Homo sapiens: one gene and its partner. The protein of the gene in region 1 purifies or fractionates together with the protein of each later gene. This does not show direct contact. Each region holds a gene or a part of one and is shown in the gene's direction. Other genes may lie near its edges.

Region 1 (7,240 bases):
TGATCAACCCCAAATCATAAAATTTGCTATACCATGCTTGCTATGGCAGGAGGTAAATCATTATGTTTCCAGATCTCTCCTTGACTGGAAAATCTTAATGCTTTCTCCTTTTTCCTGTTTATTCCTGATGTTACAATGATTTCTTCTTAAATTTTAGAAAGGAATTTCTACTTTGTACAATGCCACATTCTGTATCCTATAGATCGACTTCTGGTAATCAGGCCTTTGTTTCTCTCTTGTATTCACATTTTTTTATTGTCAATTTCTTCTACTGAAGAAATCAGCCTTTTATTTCCTGATTAGAATTCACTTTAAATGTCACTACACAGATAAATCAATATGTGAAGGTGAAAATGACTTGAAGAGCTTTGTCAAGGTAAGTGTTCTATATCAGACGTTATGGGATTTTTGAAACCAGAAGGATCCTTAGGGCTTATGGAGTTCAATGACCTCATGCACTGCAGATGAGGAAACTGAGCCCAGGAAGAGAAGACTTGCCCAACTTAACGTGAACAAATCCTGTTCTCCAAGACTCTTTCTATTTCATAGCACTAATGCAAGGAAGCTTTCTAAAAGTGATTTTAAATTTTTAATAGTTGTTTTTATTTTTCTTCCCAGCAATATCTGGATACGGTGGGTTTTATCTTCTCTTTCAAGAGTTCTATTACTCTTTTCTTCTGGTTCAGTGGGCCGGCTTGTGTTCACTTGACCAGGAATCAACATAAATCGCATTCTATCATTTTTTTCTAGTTTTACTCGTATGCTGCAAAATAAAAGCAAGATAAGATAAAGGGAAACTACTGTAGCTACTGGACTATCCTCTATTGACTTGTGTAAAAATATCTCTTCCCAGATAAATAAAACCCTGCTTTCCCTCAAAAAATAGTTGGAGGCATAAATAAGAAGGTTCAGAGGTATTTGCAACACCCACATGACCTGGCATATTGTGCTAAATGCATTTCTGCTGAATTTTGACTTTGGCCATTAATTAAGCCAAGTCATCATTAACACCGGCATAATTAGAGAAAAGCATAAACTCAAAAATAGCAAGAAGTATCCCTTAGCAGTGTCATGCTGATACCTTAAATTAGTTTTGTTTTGTTTTGTTTTGTTTTTGTTTGTTTGTTTGTTTTTGGTACATAAGGAAACCAGGAAAATATCCTTTCTTACTCTTTTCCTACCTCTCTACCCCAGGTCACCTTACACACATTTTTCATCTCTATGAGCAGCTCACTGAAGTCATTCTTTATACTACTAGTTATACTTTCAAAGTTAAGTTTAACTTTATTGTTGTGCTTAGCCTAGCGGTATCAGCATTGTATGCCTTTTCCAAATAAACCTGAGAATGATGAAGTCTTCCTTCTATGAAGGCACTTTTGCTATTGAATGTACCTTGAGATTTGATGCAGAAACCACGTTTATGGACCATAATTGTTACCAACCTATTCATTAAAGGATCAACAATACATAAGCTTCACACTTGCCCAGAAACAGTCAATAGTTAAACATTTTAAGAAATTGAAAGAACTAAACAAAATTAATAGACTGGAGAGTTTAGAAACATGCTGTTAATCAATGTTTTAGAAATAATTCACTGTGTAAAATTAAATTAGTTTAACTACAAAATTAAAAGGTAATATTTTCACATAACAATATAACTCCCAATCAAATGGCATGAGAACATGCATCTTATACTGGTGCTTGGTATACATTTTAGGTAATTTTTTGATCCTTTATTCATCAACCTTGGATATTAACAATATTCAATTTTCTATAATAGTAATTCTTCAAATTTTTAAAATCAGTTTTAAACAGAGGTCTAGGAATGAAAGACAGCCACAGTTCTAAATATTTGATTTGCTGTGATAGATAAGTGAATAAAATAGATTCTAAAGACTGGAAACCCCATAATGGACTAGCAATGCCTAGTAGCTCATCAATCAAGCAAATTCAATAAGTTGATCTGATCATGCCCAATTCCCCCGTTAGCTACTAAAACTTTTCAATTTATGCCCATTTTAAGCATAGAACTATATTCAAATACAGTTCTAATGATATTCTTGCTCAACTTCTGAAAGGCACAGGCTAAAAAATTTGCATGTTTTGCAACAGCCTAGAAGTAGAGTTCATGTATTATCAGGTTGGCCTGAATTTCCTCACTGCTGTGATATAATGGATAGTACCAACTCCAAGAATTCATAGAACATGGATGGATACACAGGGAACCAAACCAAGAGCGAGTAAGTTAAATGGTTAGTTCATTCAAGGAGCGCTCATCAATTGCCTACCAGGCATGTGTCAGTTAAATACAGCTCAGGGAACACTAGCTTGTTTCTTTCAACTCAGGAAACATTTATTCTATTGGAGAATGAGGATTTTCCCCATATGAAGGACTGACTCTGGGTTAAAAGTTAATAACAAATCAGCAAGTTGTATTACAATGGTTTGCTTGTGGAATGATTTGTTTACTCTTTTTCAATTTTCCAAATTTTCAATAGTGTGTTTATATGGCATTGATAACTTTAAAACTCCTTTACAATTAAGCTGAAATAAAAAGAAATCTATAAAACAAAAAAACCCCAGCAAATATACAAATTTTAAAAATTAAACTCTTATGTCTATTCAAGTCCTTTGCCCATTTGTATCAGGTTATTTGACTTTTTGTTGCTGAGTTATAGGAGCTCTTTATATATTCTGGATATTAATCATATCAGAGATCTAACATTGTCAAATTCATAGAAGCAAAAGGTAGGATGGTAATTACCAAGTGCTAGAGGGGAGAGGAAAAGGGGGAGCTGTTTGATGGACAAAGTTTCAGGTTTGCAAGATGAAGAAATTCTGAAGATCTATTTTAAAGCAATGTGACTGTATGTTAACACTACTGAACTGTACATTAAAAATGATAAAAATGTGGTGTTTACCCCAATTTTTAAAAATGCATGAAAATAAAACACTTGTGACAGAATAATAAATCAGCTTCTGTTTAAAAAGAAACCTGCATCAGGCAAACAAGTCCTATAATGGTAATTCTTCAAAGAACCAAAGTTCACTACTACCAGATGTGTTATTACTAAACCATTAATAAGAATAAGACCTACTGGAAGTGCATAAGGCTAATATTTCAGTTTCAGCAAAAGCAACAACAAAATTCTAATGTCGTAATAAGGTAGGTTTAACTAGTTAATGCTTTTAAAAAAATAGTTGAGTTTTTCTTTGTTAATTTATAGAAATCATCTGAATGCAAAATAAGCAATCAAGGATTCATTTATTTTTATTTGCCCTAGTTTGGTCAAATTGTTGATAGAATAATGTTTAGAACTAATTTTTAAACCTGAATGAACCATTTTTATTTTTTCTTTTCTCTCTCTTTCTTTCTTTCAAGACAAGGTCTTGCTCTGTTGCCCAGGCTGGAGGGCAGTGGCAGGATCAGAGCTCACTGCAGCCTTTTACTCCTAGCTTCAAGTGATCCTCCCGCCTGGGCCTCCCAAAGCCTGGTGTTTCCTTTAATGATTTAAAAATGTTATTCTAGTGTTGGTCTTTGCAAAGCCCTTTAAAACCGCCAACTTCAGCTTGTTCGATTTTGAAATGCGTGGCCTGAGAAATCTCCTAGGTCTTGAACATTATAAATGGGTACTATGCTCATTTTGAGGGAGCCCTGGTTTACACAAACCTGCTGCTGAACTTAGCCGTACTTACAACAAGCACTTTATTGATCTATTATAATTGATGTATTAAAATAAACAAACGAACATCACCTCCTGTCTGTAAAGCAAAACACATTTTGACTTTGGAGTTAACGTTTGCGACAGCCTTCTAACCTATGGACGTGTTCCTCAGAACTGGGTTTCTAGAAAAGCTAGGAGAAGACCCCAGCGCAGGGGAGAGGAGAGGGCGAATTGGGAAAGAACTGCTAGGGTAATCACTTCCTCGACTGGGCATGGGGTGGCACCTGAGCCCTGGCACGCGGGGCTGGGAGGGCGAGTCGCCAGCGGAGGCGAGGCCAGAAAGTCAGAGGAAAGAGGGGACCAGAGAGCCACAAAGGCAGAGCTGGAGAAGGCAGGGCGGGCAGCGGGGGCGAGGGAGAGAAAAAGAGGGAGGCGGAGCTGCCCGGGCGGGCGGGGGCGGGGGCGCGGGCGGGAGCGGGCGCGGAGGCGGCGCCGCAGCCCCAGCCGGGCCGGACGCGGGAGGGTCAGGGCCAGGGTGAGCGCCCGACTCCGAGCTGTCCCCGCTCCCGGCGCGGCGCTCCGCTCTCAGCCACCTCACGGCTGCCAGGAGTGCGCGGGAGTTTGCCCCGGAGCGCGGGGAAGTTTCCTCCGAAGCTGCGCTCCTGGAACAGCAGCACCTGCAAGCGCCCGGCAGCGGCCCGCGAGGTAACCGCGCTGGGGCTGGGGTTGGGGCTGGGGGGCACTGGAGGGGCAGAGATGATGGCGCGCTGCTGGGTACCCGCGCCGGGAGCGGGCTCTGGTGGGCGGGGACGTGCGCCCTCACCTTTCCAGGTGCTTCGCCGCTGGAGATGCGGGAGGCTTCTTCCTTTTTCTATCTCCCCTACCTCCAGTATTCCAACCCACTTCCCTTCACTTCAGTGGACGCATGGCGGGAGGTGGGGGGCGGGAGCAGGAGGGGATCCTGACTTTGAGGGGGCGCTGGAGAAGGACGGCCGCCTGAACTTGTCAGCTACCTGAGTTTCCTTCCTGCGCCCCGGCGGGGCACCCTGGACTCCAGGATTCCGGGGTCAGACCCCTCTTGGGGCATGCAGAGGTTGGAAAGAGGACGGCAGGAACAGTCTTTAGTTTCTGCTGCCAGTCTGTCGGGTCCTCCAGGGTGTGTGGCAGAAAGACGAGCATCTCTGCTGCGGGGGTGCCTCCTTTGCGTCAGTCTCAAACTCCGCGACCTGGCTCAGGCTCAGGCGCAGGCTGCGGGAGAGGTGGGAGGGAAGTTAGGGGGACCGGGAGGCCAGGTGCGATCGTGGCCAGAGCAGAGGGGTTGGGAGGGGCGATCTGAGGAGGGGCTCCAAGTGGGTTGCGGGGAGAAGGAATGGTGTGTTTGTTTCTGCTGCTGTTACTTTCACAGGGTTGCCTGCTCCCTCTTCTGCCCCGTTTGAACATCCTGCCTATCAGCATGTTTCTGTTAGAAGGTGTTATGGTTGATGTCTGTCAGGAGTTATTTCCAACTAAGTTCACAGGTGCTAAGTCTAGAGCTGCAGGCCTTCCTCCTTTCTCTCTCTCTGCGGTCCACCCCCAGCTCCCTCCCACAAACATACTGTGCCTGAATAATCCCCAGCGTTTTGAAAGCGATGGCAAGTGAATAATACACAATGTGTGTGTGTGACTTTTTTCTCCCTATTATGCTATCAGATCCAAATCAAAACGCCGTGGATGCTTAACAGGACTCCCTTTTCGCAGTTTTTCTGATAATTGAGAGTATTACCAATGTTTATTTTTCTTCGCTTTAACCTCAGAATTGCATTAATCTATCTTTGTACAATTTTATTTACATTGTTATTATTCCTCTCGGTTTGAAGGACAGGGGCCTCTTTTCAACTCACATATACACATCCAAATGCATTGTGACCATATTTAGTATTTATCTGTCTTCTGATTCAGTTGGCTGGCACCTGTTAATTCCAGTACCTAATCATAACACCATATGCCTGCCAACCAACGTGAGGATAAGGTGAATGCTATTGTTTTTCATGGGCAAGAGCACCCTGAACTACCACTTTTTATTATTGCTCAAAGGGTGTAAGAGCTTCAATCAAAGTGAATCAAATTTACAAAACAATATTACAATTCTACACCATACGATCAAACAGTATGATTCCTAGGCACTTACAGCTGACTAGTAATTGAGGAAAAATTAAAATCCTCTCATCATATGGAAAACATTTAGATTGCATATCGTCAATAAGAAATAGCACACACTGAATGCCCCCAGAAAACGAGAAGAATGTTCCTCTTACCTCATTTGGTTTTTATCCCCTTCATTACAGTACCGTCCTCCAGAAAATGAGCACCTTGCATATAGATGTTGGTATGTACTAACTAAACACCATATTTTTTAATACAGAGGCTTGGTGATAGTCCAAAAACATAAATGTTTTAAATCATTACCAACCATCTGTTCTCTCCCACTCACTTACAGCACAATGTTTTATTTTCACAGGTATCAAAACGTACTTACTCATTTCATACATTCCCATGACTATCCTGAAAGCTGTAATGGTATCCAATGTTGACTCAAGTTCAGTAACTGTTGTGTTTGGCTTATTACACCATAAGCTCTGCTTCTTTTATTTTCAATGAAAGAAGACATTCTAAAAGTTTCAAAGCACTTGGCCAAGGCTGGTGTATACTCCAGTAAAAATCTGATTGCTTTCCCCCCACCCCCCACCTTTTTGTTAACAGAGAGAAGCTAGAAATTAGTGCAGCTGCAGGGCCCTCCTGATGACCTTCTTTTCCTTTCTTCCTGGTCACAAGGGTAGCATTTGATGCTCTGAAGAAGTGCATTAAAAAGCCCTGTGACTTCAGAAACTTAGTATGGTTTCCAGGAGAATGTAACATCTTCCAAGGAAGAATTTACAAAATAAGAGACTAACTTACTCTTACAAATTCCAAATTCAGTAAACCTAAGAAATACACATTGTTTCCCACATCAGTATTGCATATGAATAGCATAGGATGTGAGATAGGATATGAATAACATGTTTACCTGTTATTATATACTTTATATTTGTATTTGGGAATCTGGATGAGTTGGGATGTAATCAGCAGATAGATTCACACTCTTTGTTTGGTTGATGTCATCAATAAAGCAAGATTTGAGATATTCAGTTCCCTATCCAAGAAAGATTTCCCATTTAGGGGTGTTTGCTCTAATTAGAGCTTCAATATTACGGTATTTTATCATTCCAAATTAAGTTACATAATACATCCTTTGTTCCTTTAGCCTAGCCAGCACATTAGGAAAATTCTTTTCACTCAAATATGGGTGCAATGTCCCAAAGCATTTTCATATTTTTTGAGGAAAAAGATAGTGATGATCTTTTTCACACTTTGCAAATAATTGATGTGTACTTGAAGATTATCAGGAACCAAGAAAAAGTGGGCCATTATCACCAGCTACAGTGTTCTATACTGCTCTTTTCCCTGAAAGCGTTAAGATTCTCCTAACTTAGAAGAATGGCTTTGGACAGAATAAACCCAAACTACAGATAATTTTGAAAGTAAAGTTGCCTTTAAAA
Region 2 (7,637 bases), on another chromosome or scaffold:
CATGGCCTGTTACCAACCAAGCCCTCCAGAGCCCAGCACTGTAGGCCGATGGCGGCCTTCCCTGGCCTGCTCCTGGGGCAGGTTGCTGAGAAGCATTGCCTGTTTTGGGGAGAGGCCTGCGGCAGCCTGAGGAATGAGCCTGGCAGTGGGCACTCTCACTGGGGCCTCCTCCGGCGCTGCCCTCAGGAAGATTCTGTGGCTCCCAAAGCCCCAGGGGCGCCTCTGACCACAGCAGTCAGTCCTGCCGGGTTGGGGGGGGCTCTTGTGCCCAGCGTAACTTCACAGAGCCAGCACGTTCCAGCCTGGGAGGGAAACCAAAAGGCACTTTGCCCAAGTGTCACCGGGCTGAAACGACATCCTCATGGGCCCCTGTCCCCGGAAGCAATGAGATTGGACAGGTGCTGAGCCCCTGTTACTTCATTGGGATGGACTTGCATCTAAGGAACGAACTGAGAGTGAACATTTCCAAATTTGAGGCCTAAGAAAAGTTTGTTGGCCTGATGAGCTGTGACAGGCAACCGTCTGGGGAAGTGGAAGCTCAGCACATCCTCCGGTTACTTATTACGTTACTGAAGGGTCTAAAAATGACTGTCCTTGGGGTGCTGGAATCCTGCAGAATAAAATAGTGCTGAATTTTAATTCATTCTTTGCAAATGAATGTTCTCAAGGCTCCGGTTGGAGTCAGGCACCCTGGGACCTTGCAGTAGTGTGCTTTGGGTCCCAGGCCACAGCACAGCCCCTTTCTTTTTTTTTTTCTTTTTTGAGATGGAGTCTTGCTCTGTCGCCCAGGCTGGAGTGTAGTGGCGTGATATCGGCTCATTGCAACCTCTGCCTCCCGGGTTCAAGTGATTCTCCCGCCTCAGCCTCCCGAGTAGTTGGGATTACAGGCGCCCGCCACCAAGCCCAACTAATCAGCTAATTTTTTTTTTTTTTTTTTTTTTTTGAGACGGAGTCTAACTCTGTCGCCCAGGCTGGATGGAGTGCAGTGGCGCAATCTCGGCTCACTGCAAGCTCCGCCTCCCAGGTTCACGCCATTCTCCTGCCTCAGCCTCCCAAGTAGCTGGGACTACAGGTGCCCGCCACCACGCCCGGCTAATTTTTTGTATTTTAAGTAGAGATGGAGTTTCACCATGTTAGCCAGGATGGTCTCGATCTCCTGACCTCGTGATCCACCCACCTCGGCCTCCCAAAGTGCTGGGATTACAGGCATGAGCCACCTCATCTGGCCTTTTTTTTCTTTTTTTTAGAGACGGAGTCTTGCTCTGTCGCCCAAGCTGGAGCATAGTGGCTCAATCTCGGCTCACTGCAACCTCTGCCTCCTGGGTTCTAGCAACTCTCCTGCCTCAGCCTCCCGAGTAGCTGGGATTACAGGCACATGCTGCCATGCCCAGCTAATTTTTTGTATTTTTAGTAGAAACGGGGGTTTTACCATGTTGCCTAGGCTGGTCTTGAACTCCTGACCTCGTGATCCACCCTCCTCGGCCTCCCAAAGTGCTGGGATTATAGGTGTGAGTCACCGCATCCAGCCCATAGTCCCTTTCCTCTCTGGGAGTCTCTGGTGGCCCCTTCATAATGCTTTTTTTTTTTTTTTTTTAATTCTTGGTACATTTTCTATGTAATCATTTCAATAACTGACTGTCCAGTAGAGTCTTTAGTTTTTCTGTATCCCTTCCCAAATTTAGAAACCTGACTTGAACTTTGGGCCAGTTGTAATGTGTCCTCTATGACAGGCCATCCTGGGCCCCCTTCCCTTTGTTCCTGTGGCTGGAGCCCTGAGCAGGCCCCATCCACTTGAGTCCAAGAGGCCCTCTCTCCTGGCTGCTACCATTGTACCCACCTGCTGGCCAGGCCCCCACAGGGGCCTCTTTCCTCCTGACAGTCTCATCCCCACTCAGCAGCCAGAGTGCCTTCTTTATAAATGTAGATCAGATCCTTTCACTGTATTTGTTCATCCAACACACATTTACTGAGCACCTACTGTGTGCTAGGCCCTGGTACGGGCACAGGAAACACATCAGGGAATAAAACTACACTCTCTGCTCTCCTGGAGCTTCCATGCTAGTGGAGAGAAGAAAGATACGTAAACATGTAATGAGTCAGGTGGTGATGAGTACAAAGGAGAAAAGTAAAGCAGAGAAATGGAGTAGAAAGTGCTGGCAATAGTGGGTGGTGGTGGTGGGGGGTGTGGTTTGCAATTTTCAACAGGGGTCCTCAGGCCTGACTGAGGAGCTGAAGAGGTAAGAGAGTGAGCCACGAGGCTAAGTGGGGTGAAAGAGTTGGAGCAGAAAAGGTGGGAGGATCACCAGGCATGATGGCCCCTCTCTGTAGTCCTAACTACTAGAGACAGGCTCATGCCTGTCATCCCAGCACTTTGGGAGGCCGAGGCAGGTGGATCATCTGAGGCCAGGAGTTCAAGACCAGCCAGACCAACATGGTGAAACCCTGTCTCTACTAAAAATACAAAAATAAGCTGGGCGTGGTGGCACATGCCTGTAATCCCAGCTACTTGGGAGGCTGAGGCAGGAGAATTGCTTGAGCCTGGGAGGCAGAGGTTGTGGTGAGCCAAGATTGCCCCACTGCACTCCAGCCTGGGCAACAGAGTGAGATCCCATCTCAAAACAAAACAACAAAAGCTAACTACTTGAGAGGCTGAGGTGGGAGGATTGCTTGAGCCCAGGAGTTTGAGGTTGCAATGAGCTACGATCACACCACTACACTCCAGCCTGGGCCACAGAGTGAGACCCTGTCTCAAAAAAAAAAAAAAAAAAAAGAGTCCCAGCAGAGAACAGCAAGCACAAAGGCCCTGAGGCAGGAGTGCACCTGGTGTGTTTGAGAACCCACAGAGACACCACTGTGGCTGGAGCAGGGTGAGATGTGGGAAGGGAGTGGCTAAGGAAGCTGAGAGGTCAAGGAAGAAGTGTGGTTGGAGCAGGCCCTGCAGGTGCCGAAGGCTTTTGCTTCTTTCCTGAGATGGCAGCCCTCACGAGCCCTGGAGCTTCCCTGGCTGCCATGAGATCAGGTGGAAGGGGGTCGAGGCTGCAAGTGGGGACGCATGAGTGGGTGACAGGTGGCAGTAGTAGAAGTGTAAGAAGAGCTGGGAGTCTGGGTCTCTTCTATCTTGAAAATAGAACCCCAGGCTGTGCTGGTAGAGCTGGATGCAGGGTGGAAGAAGGGAAAATATTTTTGCTGCTTAAATCCTAGCCTGGCTTCCCATTGCTCGTGGGGTGCATTCTCGATTCCTCTTCCCCGCCTGAGGTCTGACATGTGCTGGCCCTGGCTGGCCTCTCCTGTACCTTCTACCACCAGCTCCAGCTCATGGCCTGATGTGGTTCCTCCCCCGAATCCAGCGACCAGGCTGCCCTCTGCCCCAGCGCCTCCTCCGTGGATGTCTGCTCTTCCTGAACTGCCCTCCCACCGGACGGCTGCTCCTTGGTAGCAGCTCAAGTGTCCTTCCTTCCCTAAGCCAGTTTCCCCAAACACTGCAGCACAACGCCCTTCATTTCTCATGGCATTCTTCATGGCCTGTCAATGGGGCTTTTGTTGTTTTAATTTTCCGTCTTCTTGTTTTTGTTGGTCTTCCTAGAATATAAACCCCATGAGGGCAGAGGCGTTCAGCCTGACTCCAGCCTGGCAAAGCTGTCACAAATCTGGAGGAACACACACGTTCACGGGCACTCAGTTCTGTGAGGTACTGCAAGCCCTCTCTGAACCTGCAAGGTGGCCATTGCTGTCCCCACTTTACAAAGGAGGAAAGAGTGCGCGGAGAGGTTCTACTTAGACCCGCCAAGGGCACAGTCGTTCTAGAAAGTAGCAGACTGGGAGTTCCAACTTGGGCTTGCTGGTTCCAGAGCCCCTTCTGTGCCCCTTCCAGGCTGTGCCTGGGTGAGATTCTTCTCCTACCAGCACGTCTTCTTCCTGGAGGGTTCAGTGGCTGAGCTGACACCGGTGGGCAAGAGGCCCTGGCGGGCTTGTTGAAGGACTCAAAGGTGGCGTCTGGGAGCCTGGCGGGACTTTCTCCCTGTCAGCCTAGAGGCACTTTTAGAGGAGTGTGTCTGTTTCGCAGTCTTCGTGTCTCATAATTCATAACTAAGGTAGAGGGTACACATTTAGTTTACAGTAAAACCTCAAACCCACCTCCACTCCCAGCCGGCCACTTCTCTCCCTGTTCCCTTCTCTGCCCTCCACAGGTGAGAACAAGTGTCCGGGGCCGCCCCGTGGGGCCCCAGGCTGCCCGCCCTGAAACTGCCTCGCTGTGTGCCCTTGGGCAACCCCGCCCTGCTCCGTGCCTCAGTTTCCCCACTCATAGAGGCTCCACAGGTGACACACCTGGCTCCGGGCCCCGATCGGCCGCCGGGCCCCGCGGGGCGGAAACCCCGCGCCAAGCCTCCCGGAGGCACCTCCAGGGCAGGGCGGGGAGCGCGGGGAGGGGCCGCGGGGACCTGCGCCGCTGGGGCCGCCTGGCCGCCGGCCGGCTCCGGGGGGCGCCCGCGGGAGGGCGCGGCCGGTGCGGGGGGCGCGGGTGGCGGCGGCGGGGGGCGGAGACGCGGCGCGGCTTCCGCTCCCGCGCGCCCAGCTCCCTCCTCCCCGTCGTCCTGGTCCGCGGCGCCCGAGGGGGGAGGCGGAGGCGCCGGGAGCCGCGCGAGGAGCCGCCGCCGCCGCGCCATGGAGCCCGAGTGAGCGCGGCGCGGGCCCGTCCGGCCGCCGGACAACATGGAGGCAGCGCCGCCCGGGCCGCCGTGGCCGCTGCTGCTGCTGCTGCTGCTGCTGCTGGCGCTGTGCGGCTGCCCGGCCCCCGCCGCGGGTAGGTGGGCGCAGGCCGGCCGGGGGCCGCGGGTTGCTCGGACAATGGCCCGGGCGGCCCCGCGGCCAAGTGCGCGGGCGCCGCCGCCGTCTCGGAAGCGACTTGGCGAGTTGGGAGCGAGTTGGGGCGCGCGCCCGGGATCCCCCTGCCGTCCCCGGCGTCCCCGCCACGCGCGGGCCCTTTGTCTCCCCACCCGGGCCCTCCCCGGGGACGCTGCGTCCCGGGCTGGCGAGGAGGGCGCCCGCTCCGCCAGGTGCGGCGCGGGCGGGTCCTCACCTGCCCGAGCCCGCGGGAAGCCGGGAGCCGAGCCGAGCCCGCGCTGGGCCCGTGTGGCCCGGGCCGGGCACCGAGCGGGGACTTGGGGCGCGGAGGCGGGCCTGGCCCGGGGAGCCGGTTCGCAAGCCTGTTTCCAGCGGCCGCGCGGCCGCCCCGCGTGCTCCGAGGACGGGCTGAAGTTGCAGCGAGAAAGTTCTGAGCCCGGGCGCGGGGCGGCCTGGCCGGTGGCGCTGCTCCTGTGAGCCGCGTGGCTGTGGGTTTCCAAGCGGACTGACACCTGCCAGGTGCCCGGGCGACCCGAATGCCCCGTGTGGCCGCCGGGTCCCCAGATAGTGTCCATCCCCGGGTCGGCTACGCGGAGGTGACGTGGTCCCAGATCGCGGGGCAGTGGGGGAGGCAGGCTTGTGCCTCAGTTGTACACTCCCGTGGGGAGAGGTAGGGCGGGGGAACTTTCTCTCCAACTTTTGGTGTTTCCCAGGGGGTGGAGTTGAGGTCAGGAGGACTCAGGAAACTTAAGCAGTCGTGAAACGCTACACATGTTCTTTTAATTTGGAGATTGCCATGTGGTTTTTCAAGCAAGCCTCTTGCTACCTAAATCATTCTCTTCGGATGTGCGTGTTTTGTTTTTCTGGAGTATGGCTGGCCAAGTGGCACGGCCGCAAGTGCCTGTGCACGCCGCGGCTCCTGTTCTGTTTGTGGCAGTTTAGCGGGGAGGACCTCGGGCCCCTTTGTCTGGGCCTCCTTAAGGCAAACAGCTGTCTCCCTGAATATTTCCAGTGTGAATGGTGCAGCGGGGTGGCCCTGTAGTCAGATCCCCCAGGCTGCAGCCTCTGCTTGGAGGTGTGGGGGACAGCGGGGAACAGGAGGAGCTTGGAGTTTGTTTCACGTCCTCCTGCCTCTGACCCAAGCCTAGAGATTCTATGGACAGTTTCACCCCAAATCTGCCTCTTTCAGGAGCGTGTTTACATTGTGGGGCCTTGTCTGGAGCTAGCAAAACAAGGTGAAGACAAAACAGCGACAGTATCTGGGGAGTACAGGCCAGCGCCGCTCCTTTTTCCGGAAATGCCTGGGTCAAGGAGGCAAAAGGGGTTTTGGGGAAACTGTTTGTTTTAAAGGGGGGGTTTCTAGGCCGACCGCGTTGCCTTTCACCTCATTGCAGTTTTGGGTTTTGTGCACGTTTTGGGGTGATGTTGCTGGAGTCAAATGCCTGTCGTCCATGTGGTTCGAGCCCCTGAGGAGAAAGAATTATAGCTGTAGAGTTCAGTTGTGTGTGAGGCAAAAATAGAGTTGATTATTTTAACATTAGGCAGCAAGGCCTGGGAGCCCCAGTGAATGTGGTGATCCAGGCCTAAAATGGAAGGAAAGGGAGGAATCTTTCTGCAGAACGGTTTTGATGTTATATCCCTGGTTTTACTGTGTGAAATACATGCCTCGGACCTCAGCGAAGCCAGTAAGTGGGCCGCTAATTATTTTTCCTGATTGCTTCCTGTTGCAATTGGAAGCTGTGAACGCACGGAAATGGCTTTGTTCTAGTGGTCCCAGTGCTGAGAACTTCCCCAGCTCCCAAGCCCTAGTCCTCTCTCCTCGGGGCCCAAGTGCTTGTTCCAGGGCCGGCCTGTCCAGGCACCCCCTCTCCCCCTGGAGGTTCCTCCTGTAGATGCCCAAGGCCAAGGCCGGGCCCTCTGGGAGAGCCCAGAAGGGCTGAGTGGGGTTAACCAAGTGCTGTGTGGAGCACCCTGAGAGAGTCCCCTCCAAAGCAGGGCCCCGTGTGTTTAGCTCCCCTCTTCAGTTCCAAGAAATTCGCCGGTGAACCCGATCCAGCATTTGTTCAGCACTTTCCTGGGGAGATTCACCTCGTGCTTCCTGTCGTTTTTGGAACCCGTTTAATTTCAGCCGTGCTGTGTCACTGCTCAGGCATTTAGTAGAACTCACACACACGGGTGGGGGATGTAGGCAGGTGAGGCCTCTGAGTTGCTTTCTCCCTTGCAGCGACGGGTTGCAGGGCTGATGGGGGTGGAGGGGTTTGGGGTCAGACCCACCTGGGTTTACATGCTCAGTGGCTGTTTGACTTCGGGCACCATACCTAGTTTCTGTTATCTCACCCCGTTCCTCTCCCAGGCTATGGGGAGCCCTAACTGCCCTGTGTGAGACCTTTAGCCCCATCCCTGGCAGAGCTGCAGTGAGCGCAGTTGTGTGTCAGCGTCCTCGATCTTTCTGGCCCCAGCCGGTCTAGAGGCTGTTATTACAATAGTCTGGATTTTTCCTGTATGACCTTGGACATCCAGTCCACTGACAAACTCACTCACTCACCGCTGCAGCCCTCGGGGGCAGGAGTAGTTAGTTAGCACTGTGGACAGAGCCCCTGCGCCCAGGGTCTGATTCCAGCCTGGCCGCTTCCTGTGCTGGGAGGCTTAGGAAGCTGATGCTACCTTTGTGTGCCTCAGTTTTCTCACCTGTAAAATGGGAATAGAATCCTTCCTACCATGAATTCAGTGAGTTAACGTGCACCTGGCCCGGTATAATGCTGTTGCTGTTTTGCTTTGGTGTCTGCTACCGAGTG

What was found. The genes of interacting proteins can lie anywhere in the genome.
Region 2: the proteins of CHST9 (region 1) and LRP5 purify together in Homo sapiens (affinity purification with mass spectrometry; 3 studies listed by BioGRID and IntAct, with this or other methods). This does not show direct contact.

What each region holds. Positions count from the first base shown.
Region 1 is NC_000018.10:27,182,266-27,189,505, reverse strand, and holds the start of CHST9 (carbohydrate sulfotransferase 9), read left to right. Parts: upstream 1-4,197; 5' UTR 4,198-4,370; intron 4,371-7,240. UniProt on the Homo sapiens protein: Catalyzes the transfer of sulfate to position 4 of non-reducing N-acetylgalactosamine (GalNAc) residues in both N-glycans and O-glycans.
Region 2 is NC_000011.10:68,308,005-68,315,641, forward strand, and holds the start of LRP5 (low-density lipoprotein receptor-related protein 5 isoform 1 precursor), read left to right. Parts: upstream 1-4,586; 5' UTR 4,587-4,710; coding exon 4,711-4,801; intron 4,802-5,444; exon of another isoform or gene 5,445-7,637. UniProt on the Homo sapiens protein: Acts as a coreceptor with members of the frizzled family of seven-transmembrane spanning receptors to transduce signal by Wnt proteins.